3 separate regions of the Homo sapiens genome follow, and regions 2 and 3 are each reported to be linked to region 1. Evidence: microRNA targets listed by miRTarBase, many of them from high-throughput screens and not tested one by one. Region 1 holds a microRNA gene; each other region holds the end of a gene's coding sequence.

Evidence for each region. Region 1 holds the annotated microRNA hsa-miR-6722-3p (UGCAGGGGUCGGGUGGGCCAGG, at 1,923-1,944, shown strand). A microRNA usually pairs through its seed, bases 2 to 8, with sites in the 3' UTR of a target mRNA and lowers its output. Matches are read on the target gene's strand: a 7mer-m8 pairs with bases 2 to 8, a 7mer-A1 pairs with bases 2 to 7 and ends in A, and an 8mer does both.
Region 2: miRTarBase lists HACD2 as a target of hsa-miR-6722-3p. Seed matches in the 3' UTR shown: 8mer at 1,574-1,581.
Region 3: miRTarBase lists MIDN as a target of hsa-miR-6722-3p. Seed matches in the 3' UTR shown: 7mer-m8 at 1,571-1,577 and 7mer-m8 at 1,555-1,561.

Annotation. Positions count from the first base shown.
Region 1 is chr9:136,745,616-136,748,846 of GRCh38, reverse strand. It overlaps MIR6722 (microRNA 6722), which reads left to right and starts at 1,877; the gene lies at 1,877-1,954. It overlaps LCN6 (lipocalin 6), which reads left to right and starts at 322. Exons shown (of 7, transcript NM_198946.3): 1 at 322-453; 2 at 1,284-1,423; 3 at 2,933-3,003. The coding sequence starts at 364. LOC100128593 (a long non-coding RNA gene) reads right to left here and starts at 2,686. Exons shown (of 3, transcript NR_033913.1): 1 at 2,646-2,686; 2 at 275-1,769; 3 at 1-101.
Region 2 is chr3:123,491,926-123,495,171 of GRCh38, forward strand. It overlaps HACD2 (3-hydroxyacyl-CoA dehydratase 2), which reads right to left. Exons shown (of 7, transcript NM_198402.5): 7 at 1-3,045. The coding sequence ends at 2,963. Among named protein-coding and RNA genes, the nearest start is that of ADCY5, 44 kb to the left of the region's middle.
Region 3 is chr19:1,256,736-1,259,981 of GRCh38, reverse strand. It overlaps MIDN (midnolin), which reads right to left. Exons shown (of 9, transcript NM_001388306.1): 9 at 839-2,987. The coding sequence ends at 2,710. Among named protein-coding and RNA genes, the nearest start is that of MIDN, 9.8 kb to the right of the region's middle. RefSeq lists enhancers at 262-421, 842-991.

The DNA.
Region 1 (3,231 bases):
GGACAGCAGTCTCCCTGCTTCCCAGGCTGGGCGAGGGAGAGCGTGGGTCCCCAGGAACGGGGGAGGTGGTGCGGCTGGCTTTAGGATGCCCATTCTGGAACCTTCTGGTGGAAGAAAGCAGGGGATCAGTATAGTATGGTTGATCCACACACTCCAGACCCTCTCCTGGCTGTGCAGCTGGTCTGATCTGGGCTCAGAGGCTGCCACTGCTCAGTGCTCCCCTGGGTAATTTTGCAGGAGGCCAGGAGGGTTCCTGGCAGTTAGTGCCACCCACACGGAGAAATTCAGAGCCATATAAACGGGTCTCCAGGGCCTGGAGGGACTGCACATCCTGGGCCTGCGGCGCAGTGTAGACCTGGGAGGATGGGCGGCCTGCTGCTGGCTGCTTTTCTGGCTTTGGTCTCGGTGCCCAGGGCCCAGGCCGTGTGGTTGGGAAGACTGGACCCTGAGCAGGTACAGTCCTCCTGGGGGTGGGGAGAGCTGGTCCTCGGGGGCCAGCCCCTCCTTTAAGGCCACACAGCTTCTGGGCCCCCCAGGGCTAGCCCAGACCAGCATGAGCAGTGGGGAATTAGTTGGGCCAGCCCTTGGGGAGTCCCACAGGCAGGAGCCTCAGGGCAGGAGGGGTGGATGCTGGAGGGTTGGAGGCTGGAGGGCTGGAGAATTGGAGGCTGGAGACTGGAGGTTGCAGGGCTGGAGGGTGTAGGGTTGGAGAACTGGAGGCTGGAGGGCTGGAGGCTGTAGGGCTGGAGAACTGGAGGCTGGAGGCTGCTGGGCTGGAGGCTGGAGGGCTGTAGAACTGGAGGCTGGAGGGCTGGAGGCTGGAGGGCTGCAGAACTGGAGGCTGGAGGGCTGGAGAGCTGGAGACTAGAGGCTGCAGGGCTGCAGGCTGGAGGTTGGAAGGCTGGAGGGCTGGAGCCTAGAGGCTGTAGGGCTGGAAGGCTGGAGGCTGGAGGGTTGGAGGTCTGGGGGGTTGGAAGCTGGAGGCTGGAGGGCTGGAGAACTGAAGGCTAGAGGCTGCAAGGCTGGAAGGTTGGAGGCTGGAGGGCGGGAGGGTTGGAGACTGGAGGCTGGAGGGCTGGATGGTTGGAGGGTGGAGGCTGGAGGCTGCAGGGCTGGAAGGCTGGAGGCTGGAGGGTTGGAGGCTGGAGGCTGGAGGGCTGGATGGTTGGAGGGTGGAGGCTGAGGCTGGAGGTTTGGAGGCTGGAGGCTGAGGCTGGAGGGTTGGAGGCTGGAGGCTGGAGGCTGGAGGGCTGGCGGCCCTAACGGGAGCCGCCTCAATGCAGCTTCTTGGGCCCTGGTACGTGCTTGCGGTGGCCTCCCGGGAAAAGGGCTTTGCCATGGAGAAGGACATGAAGAACGTCGTGGGGGTGGTGGTGACCCTCACTCCAGAAAACAACCTGCGGACGCTGTCCTCTCAGCACGGGTGAGTGGGCGGGTCCTGCCAGGCCTTCCCGCAGGCAGGACTGTGGCTCAGCCACATCATGTACTTTGCACATCTGCTCCCGGGCACCGCGGCCTGGGGGCTTCCCACGGCCCCTCTGCACCCCCGTCACTTTTCCCACTGGGCTCTGTGCAGAGCCACCAGCCCTCTGCCCAGCTACTCACATCTGTGTCCCTGGGGCCTCCAGGTGGCACTCCCACCTTCAATACCGCGGCGGGCACTGCTCTGACTATGCTCCTTCATGCATCCCTGTCCTGGGTCATCTGGGCTGCAGGCTGTGGTCAGAGCTGGGGAAGCCTGTCCTCTCAGCAGGCCTTTTTCGGGAATTCTGTTTAAAGGAGGATAATGCATTCGGACCTAAGAACCACTGGTTCTTTCATAACATAAATCCCCAAACAATATGGTCATGGACGCTGTTGGCCAGACTGGCCTTGTGGCCTCAGGCAGGCGCACCCGACCACATGCATGGCTGGTGGCGGCGTGCAGGGGTCGGGTGGGCCAGGCTGTGGGGCGGCCGTGCTACACAGGGGACACCTACAGGGCAGCCGGGCTGTGGGGGTAGCCGTGCTGGGGCAGGAGTCGGTGCCCGCCTCCCTTCACAGAAGAGTGGCCTGCTGGGTGGCGTGGTGGGTGTCTACCCCCTGGCAGGCTGGCGACAGAGCCCAGGCCTGAACCACTGAGCCAGGTACGGGGCCCAGAGAGAAGAACCTGCCCTCCTCACCAGCGTGCCTTCCCCCTGCACCTGCGCCTGCAGGGTATGGGCAGGGGCCCCACTGCACCCCCCGGGCCAGGCCTGGCCTCAGGGCGAGCTGGGACCAAGGGGCTCCAGGCTGAGGTGGCAGCTCCCACGTGGCTTTCCTAGTTCTTCTTGCTGTTCCTCCCGCATGGACTCAGCCTCAGTTTCCTTCCTTGGCAAACACCATTGCACCTTTGCTGGGTTTTGCTCACTCTGGGGACTGACCACTTAGGGAGCGCCGGCCCCTTCCCCCGAGTCGCAGGCAAACCCCCACCCCGCCCCATCCTTCCCCTGAGTCGCAGGCGAACCCCCACCCCACCCCATCCTTCCCCTGAGTCACGGGCGAACCCCCACCCCGCCCCATCCTTCCCCTGAGTTGCGGGCGAACCCCCACCCCGCCCCATCCTTCCCCTGAGTCACGGGCGAACCCCCACCCCACCCCATCTTTCCCCCGAGTCGCGGGCGAACCTCCCGTCTGTCGAGTCTCCTGTTGTGTCCTCAGCAGCATTCAGCGTTCCTGGTGGAGATCTGGCACTGAGGATCTCTCAGGAAGTGAATGGGAGTGTCCGCCCCTCTCAGGACTCCCACGCCGTCCACTCTCCGAGAACAGGTTTCCGGGCATCGGGGCATCTGGCAGAAGATGGAAGCTCTGGCCTCACTGCTGGCTGGCCTGGCCTGGACTCCTGAGCTCCGTCTCCTCTCACCGGGCCCCGGGGTCTTGACCCTGAGTGGGTGACAGGCCCCTTCTTTTCCAGGCTGGGAGGGTGTGACCAGAGTGTCATGGACCTGATAAAGCGAAACTCCGGATGGGTGTTTGAGAATCCCTGTGAGTCTGACGGCCACGGCCTCACCCAGGCCGTTCTTCCCTGCAGCATCCCCAGGCCCCCTGCGGGCAGGGACGGAGGGCTGACTCCGCTCCCGAGAGCCAGGAGGCTACAGGTTCTGGTCTTGGGATTGCTGCCCATCCTGAGGGTGAAGAGAAGCCCCTGGACAGAGGATTGGAACCTTGTTCCCAGCAGGCTCAGACACCAGTGAGGTCCAGCCAAGGTCCCCA
Region 2 (3,246 bases), not on the chromosome of region 1:
CATATCAATGCCAACCTTTTATTATAAATGAATAACCAAAAAAATAAGTGAAAAATGAGGGCACGATCTCTTCTTACACCTCTTCAACTCTCCAGCATCTAAACCTTTCCTGTCAGAAGTCTGCTCTGGAGACTTTTTTCATCTGCAAGGACAGTGCTTTATTCCATGACTAACTCTCCATGGTGCCTCTGGATAATGGTTGGTATGTGTTAAATGAATAAGCCCAACCTCAGCAAACAGAACGCAGCAAGATGTAGATTAGCAGTCTGTGCTGACAAAAGCACTACTGCGGACCTCAAAGAATTCTCTGTCAGAAGAAGGCCCCCACGGAGGGATCTGAAATACATAATCAAGTGGGTAGTTGGGAGGATGATGCCTTTGACTATGCCCTGAAATGAAACCTCTAAGTCTGACAAAATACCCACAAAAACATGACCTTCCTTGTTCACACTTTATAAGAAGGTGTGACATTTGGTGGTGTGGTTGTTCTCAATTTATAAAATAATAAATGACTTCAAAGGAGAAATGAATTCATGTTAGGGATAAAGAAACCAGTTACTGAGAGAGGTTACTGAAGGACACAGTGACATGCCTTACTTATCTGCCATAAGTATTCTAAATGTTGATGTACAAAAATACACACTGGGGTTGAGACCCTTTTTGAAAAGGGAGCTGTGTGCTGTGTTCTCATTGCCAAAGTTCAATTCAATGCAACACCACTGTTTGCAACAGAATGTTTTTTATAAGTAGTGACAAATTATAATAAGGAGGCCCAAATAAAACCCCCAGTCCAGCAACCCTGGAAAAGCTGCATTTTTCATCCTGATTTCTAGAATTTTTCCAAAAACAACTGAAAAAATCTAACAGAACAAAGTAAATGACAAATATAACCCAAGTTGATTCTATTTTATAGTAGAAATACATTATGGAAGAATAAAATGAGAGAAAAGTCATGCAAAAAATCTTTCCCACATATTTTGTCTATCAAATACAAGAATAGATTCTAATTTCAACATGTCCAAGTTGAGTGCTGACTTTAAGAAGCAGAATTTTAATGTTCAATTCAAAAATAATTTATTACACACCTGCCTGCATTAAATTTTCAAACTTCTATAAAAATAAGCACTTAAAAATTTAGTTTTCCAGGGGTTGGGTGCAGTGGCTCATGCCTGCAATCCCAGCACTTTGGGAGGCTGAGGCGGGTGGATCACGAGGTCAGGAGATCAAGACCATCCTGGCTAACACGGTGAAACCCCGTCTCTACTAAAAATACAAAAAAAATTAGCTGGGTGTGGTGGCAGGCACCTGTAGTCCCAGCTACTCAGGAGGCTGAGGCAGGAGGATGGCGTGAACCCGGGAGGTGGAGCTTGCAGTGAGCTGAGATCGCGCCACTGCACTCCAGCCTGGGCAACAGAGCGAGACTCCGTCTCAAGAGAAAAAAAAAATTTAGTTTTCCAGTATGAGTTTTCTGATATTCGCAATTATATTTTAAATGACAACTACTCAATAAGCTAAACTTTTAAACTCTTAAAGTTCAACATCAACCCCCACCCTGCCCCCAAAAAAAGGCAGCTGCAGGGGATGGGGGAGGAAAAAAGGCTCCATGAAGAAGATACTGTGCTATTTAATACTTAATGCACATCTAAACTTGGGCTTTCACATTTTCATCCAACTCTTTCTTTCTTATTTTTTTTCAGTTTACCTACAGTTGCAGTACCAATCCTTTCTTGAGGAGTTTTAAATGCATGGTTGAGCAATTAAATTGTATGAGGATGTGACATGGATTAGACAATGTCGGTAGTACCAAACTATTTCTTGGCTGCTCCAACATGCGGAGATGACACTGCTTTTAGCTCATGACAGCCCAAGGGGAATGTTTTACTGACTATGGACTTATAGCTTGGTGGAAATTAACATAGGAAGTTAATTAGCAAAAGTATCCAAACAGAAGAGTGAATGAAAATTTAAAAATAAAACAATAATGGTGTATAAATCTATTCCTGAATGTTTTTCCTGACTACCTTTCTAAAGCAACACCTTCCATGTGCTTTCACTAACACAGCCTCCTTTCCTATGTGACTGGATCCGCTTCTTCAGGGCCATCAGTGCATCAGTGAGAATAGCTACTGGCAAACACGTTACTCAGAGGTGTTCTGAGAATGGTGCTGTGAAAAGGACTTGTCACTTTTGAGCTATTGAGCTCCCCCTTTCTGAGACCTGTCATTTTGTTAAGACATGATTGAGGCTGAGCTCCAGATAAGATATATTCTTTACGGTACACACATACTTATTAGATTCAAGCACGTTTCTTAGTGGCAGGCAGTAATGACTCAATTGGAAACAAACAAAAGGGTTCTAAGTTGTTTTCTGATTACAGGCACTACCCCGAAGCTTCATAGACATATACATTTTATAATTCATTCATTAGATGTGAGGGGATAGGTCCCAGCCATAACTTCAGAGCATTCCAGAGAACAGAGTTTGCCGCTTCAAAAATACAAAGTTTCCAGCATGCAGTCAAGCACTTTGACAAGGGAATGCTAAACACACTGCAGACTGAAACATAACTATACTGCAAGCTGGGCTATTCAGCTGGTACGACTTCATTATTCAGACTGTAACTCTCAAGTACTTAGTGTTACAGGTCTTCATTGATCAGATACATGAAGGACACAGAAGGACATAAAATGCCAAATCCCTTTCTAGTGCCATCATAAATATTAAGAACTTCTGGTTGAAAGAGCATGCTGAAATGAACTGGCCAGGGTGTTTTATGTAACAACCTTTTTCTAAAATAAAATCTCAGGCCCATGTGACACTGGATTTTTGTTTTAGTTTTGTTTGAATATTTTAAAAATAGTTCTTACTTATTTTCTATGAAACGTATTGGGAACTCAAAAAATCTGCAGCATTTTTTGATCATTGAAAAGTTTGTTTTGGTGGGAGGTGCAGAAAGCAGGAACTATTCAAATTTCTTGTGTTCTTCAGTATGAGAAAGGATCTTTCTTCTCTGGTGTATCATGTGGAAGTATAACTGGGGAAAAACTGAAAAGAAAAGAAAAATTGGTTAAGAGGATGGTTTAAAATTGCATATGCTCTATTTAAAGCATATGAAGTTGAGGTCCTCTCTGACCCTCTGACTAATTTCTCATCCAGCAACCAAGGAAGGTAACAAAGTGGGCTTGGGGAAAGGAAGAAAAAACACAGAGAGACTTACCTCCTTTCTTTTCCTGCTTTAGCTGAGGG
Region 3 (3,246 bases), not on the chromosome of region 1:
AAAAAGACATGAAATAGTGTTATTGCCTCATCTCTGCCCAGCCCGGACATGGGTGGAGGTGGGACCCCAGAGAGGACTCAGTCCTGGTGAGGCTCACGGGGAGCTCCAGGCTAGGGACAGAGAGAGGGAAGGGTGGGGTCTGCGGGACGGGGTGGACAGGGGTGGAAGGCGCAGGCTGGGGAAGTTCCCAGACAGCAAGGGACAGCCGGACCAGGGGTGTTCCTAGACAGGGGGCAAAGGCCGGGAGGTTTGGAGCTGAAGGCCAGGTCTGGGAAGGGCTGGAATGTCAGGAGGTGTGGCCAGAGAGGCCCCCCAGGGCTGGGTCAAGCCAGGCCTGTATCACCTGCCAGCCCAAGGTACCCTGCGGAGTCCTAGGTCCTCCCAGTCGGCCTGGTGATCTCCCTGCAGCAAGCCACACAGATGTGAGACTCCAGGAAGGGGAGCAGGTGGGTGTGGCAGAGTGGGAGTCCCCGACTCCTGTGGCTGGGGAGAGCTGGTGGTCGCGTCTCCCCCATACTGGCAGGTCCTGAGGGGGCCAGGGTCCTGCCCAGGCCACGAAGCAGGCAGGCAGGCCCTCGCCCCACACCCTAAGGGACTTCCGGCCTTGGGTACCAGGAAGTGGCTGGGCTCCTCCCTCCCACCCTGGCTGCTTCCTGCCCACCCGGCAGCCGGGGAAGGAGCGTGGGAAATTCTCAGGGCCCTGACCCCTGCCCCACCCCCTCTTCGGGGCCTTGGGACCCAGGTCAGTCCCTCTGACTCCCTGAGCTGACATCCCACCCCAGGAACCCTCCCAACCAAGGCCAGATCCCCCCACTAGGCGAGCAGGCGGGAGTCAATGTGTGTTTCATTTTCTGTTTATTACTTGAAATCACGGTGCTCGTGTAGGTTTTTTTTTTTTTTTCAATTTTATGTTTTCATACATGAAACTCACGCCAGGTGCCGGGACCCCCACAGCCCGACCCCCCGAGGGCGGGTAATGCTTTCTTGGGCAGCCCTTACCGGGCAGAGGGTGGCGAGCCGGTTCCTGCCTGGAGGTTCCACCCTCAACCAGTGGAGGCACAGACGTTATTTAAAAATCGTTAAAAAACAAAACAGAACACACATTTAAATAGGTATCCAAGACAGTTCTTCAAAAAACAAACCCGCCCCTTTTACTCCTTTTTTTTCTATTTTTTTTTCTTTTTTTTTTGGAAAAATGAAAACAAAACAAAACCCAAAATCCTTGAGCTCTACCCTCTGGGACCCCTCCCTGCCCACCCTCCCACAAAAAAATTTACAGCGCTACAGTTATAACACGTGATGTTCACATCTGAAACCATTAACTTTCAACACATAAAGGGGGGGAGTTGAGGACCTGGGGTTCACCTACGAGAACAACGGTGGGGGACAGGCAGAGCCAGGACAAGACCGACAGGTGGGGTGAGGAAGGGTCCAGACATCTCCATTATCATTAAAAAATAAAAAGTGAGTGGGGAAAAAAATCCAAAAACTACCCCATTGAAATGGCCCCAGTAGGGGATTTGTCCCTCCCCTCTGGAGACAGACACCCCTAGGGCAGGGGCACTGAGAGGCAGGGGGTCCAAATTAGACCAGCAGCGGACCCCGCCACGGGGGTTAATGCTACACGGAGTTGTCGCCCCCTGCCCAGGGGATTCACAGCTCAGCACCCCCTCCCATCCTCGCTGCAGGAGGGGCCCCCAGACAGTCCCAAATCCACATCCCTCAGGTTGGGCCGGGAAGGAGGGCTCGGAGGGGGGAACTCCCCAGCACCCAGCCATTCTCTCCCCTTTTTCAAGAGTTCCCCAACCACTATTGGCTCAGTCAGAAAATTAATAGTCTATAAATACCCCAAACTCAGGCAGGAGGTCAGAAAACACGGGAGTGGGGGCGGAGGAAACAGCACAGTCCGCCGGCTGGGGCGGGGCGGAGGGCAGGCTGGGGGGGTAGTTCCCCTCTCCCTTCCCGACAGGAAAGGGTGCCATGCCCCTGCACCCAAACCCCATGGGGACCTCAGCCCCAGCCTCTGCTAAAACAGCTTTGCTCTCCTTGTTAAAGAAATGAAGGAAAATGCAAAAAAAAGATCAAGAAAAGAGGATAGGAGTGGAAGAGAAACAGTCCCCTCGTTGGCTTCTGTGACCTGTTGGCTTGCTGTAGCCCAGTGGGCGCTGCTGGCCTGGGGTGGAGACCCCGAAGTCTGCACTGGGGGGTGGGGTGGGTTCTGCGCACTGCGGCCCCTCCCCTCATCTGTAAAGTGCATAATGACATATCGACATTTTTGACTTAAAACCTGAATAGGGTCGGGGGGGAAAGGAGGCGGCGGAAGGGATGGGGCGCGTTTCTCCGTCTCCTTCACTCTCCGCCATCCAGAGAGACTGCTACATATTGGAGCTGGGGAAGGTTGGCAGGGAGGACCGACCTGGCGCAGAGGTGAAAGGAGACAGACGGAGGAGGAGGAGGAGGAGGAAGAGGAGGGCAGGAGTGAAGGGTGAAGGAGGTAGGAAGCAAAGCCCATGAAGAGTCCAGGAAACCACGGTCAGAACTTTTTAAAAAAAGAAAAAAATAATAAAAAAGAAGAAAAGAAAAAAAGACTTCTGGCTGGGGGAGTGGCCGCCTGCCCTCCAGGGCTGGGCCACGTTCTCTCCGGGGCTCTCGGAGTCCCCGCCGCCCTGGGCTGGGGTGCGAGGGGCGAGGGTGGCCGATCCGAAGATCCTAAGCCACCACGAACTCTGACTTGATGTCAGGGTTGACTTCTGGCTTCCACACGGAGTCCTCGAAGTCGAGGCCCAAGCCGGAGGCCTCGCTGGGGCTGCCGCCGCCCCCGCTGCTACTGCTGTCGCTGCGGCCGGCCTTGCGGCTGGGTGACCAGTGGTACGGACCCCGCGCGTCCCGCCGGGCCTTTCTACGGAGCCGTTTCTGCTGCAGAAGCAGCTGCAGCCGTTCCACCTTGCAGCGCGTGGCGCGGTTTTCTGTCTGCCGAAGCCGGTCCCCTGCAAAGGAGGTAGTGGCCTGTGACTCCCAAAGCCTCCACCTGCTGAACACAGAGGACCACCCCAGACCCCAGCAAATGCCCCTGAGGTCAGACACAGTCCTGCCCTCCCTGGAGGGAGGTCAGCAAAGGAAACAGTCAAGGACATCCACCATGCCGGGCACAGTGGTTCACGCCTGTAATCTCAGCACTTTGGGAGGCCGAGGCAGGAGAATCGCTTGAGCTCAGGAGTTCGAGACAGGCCTGGGCAACCTCAGGAG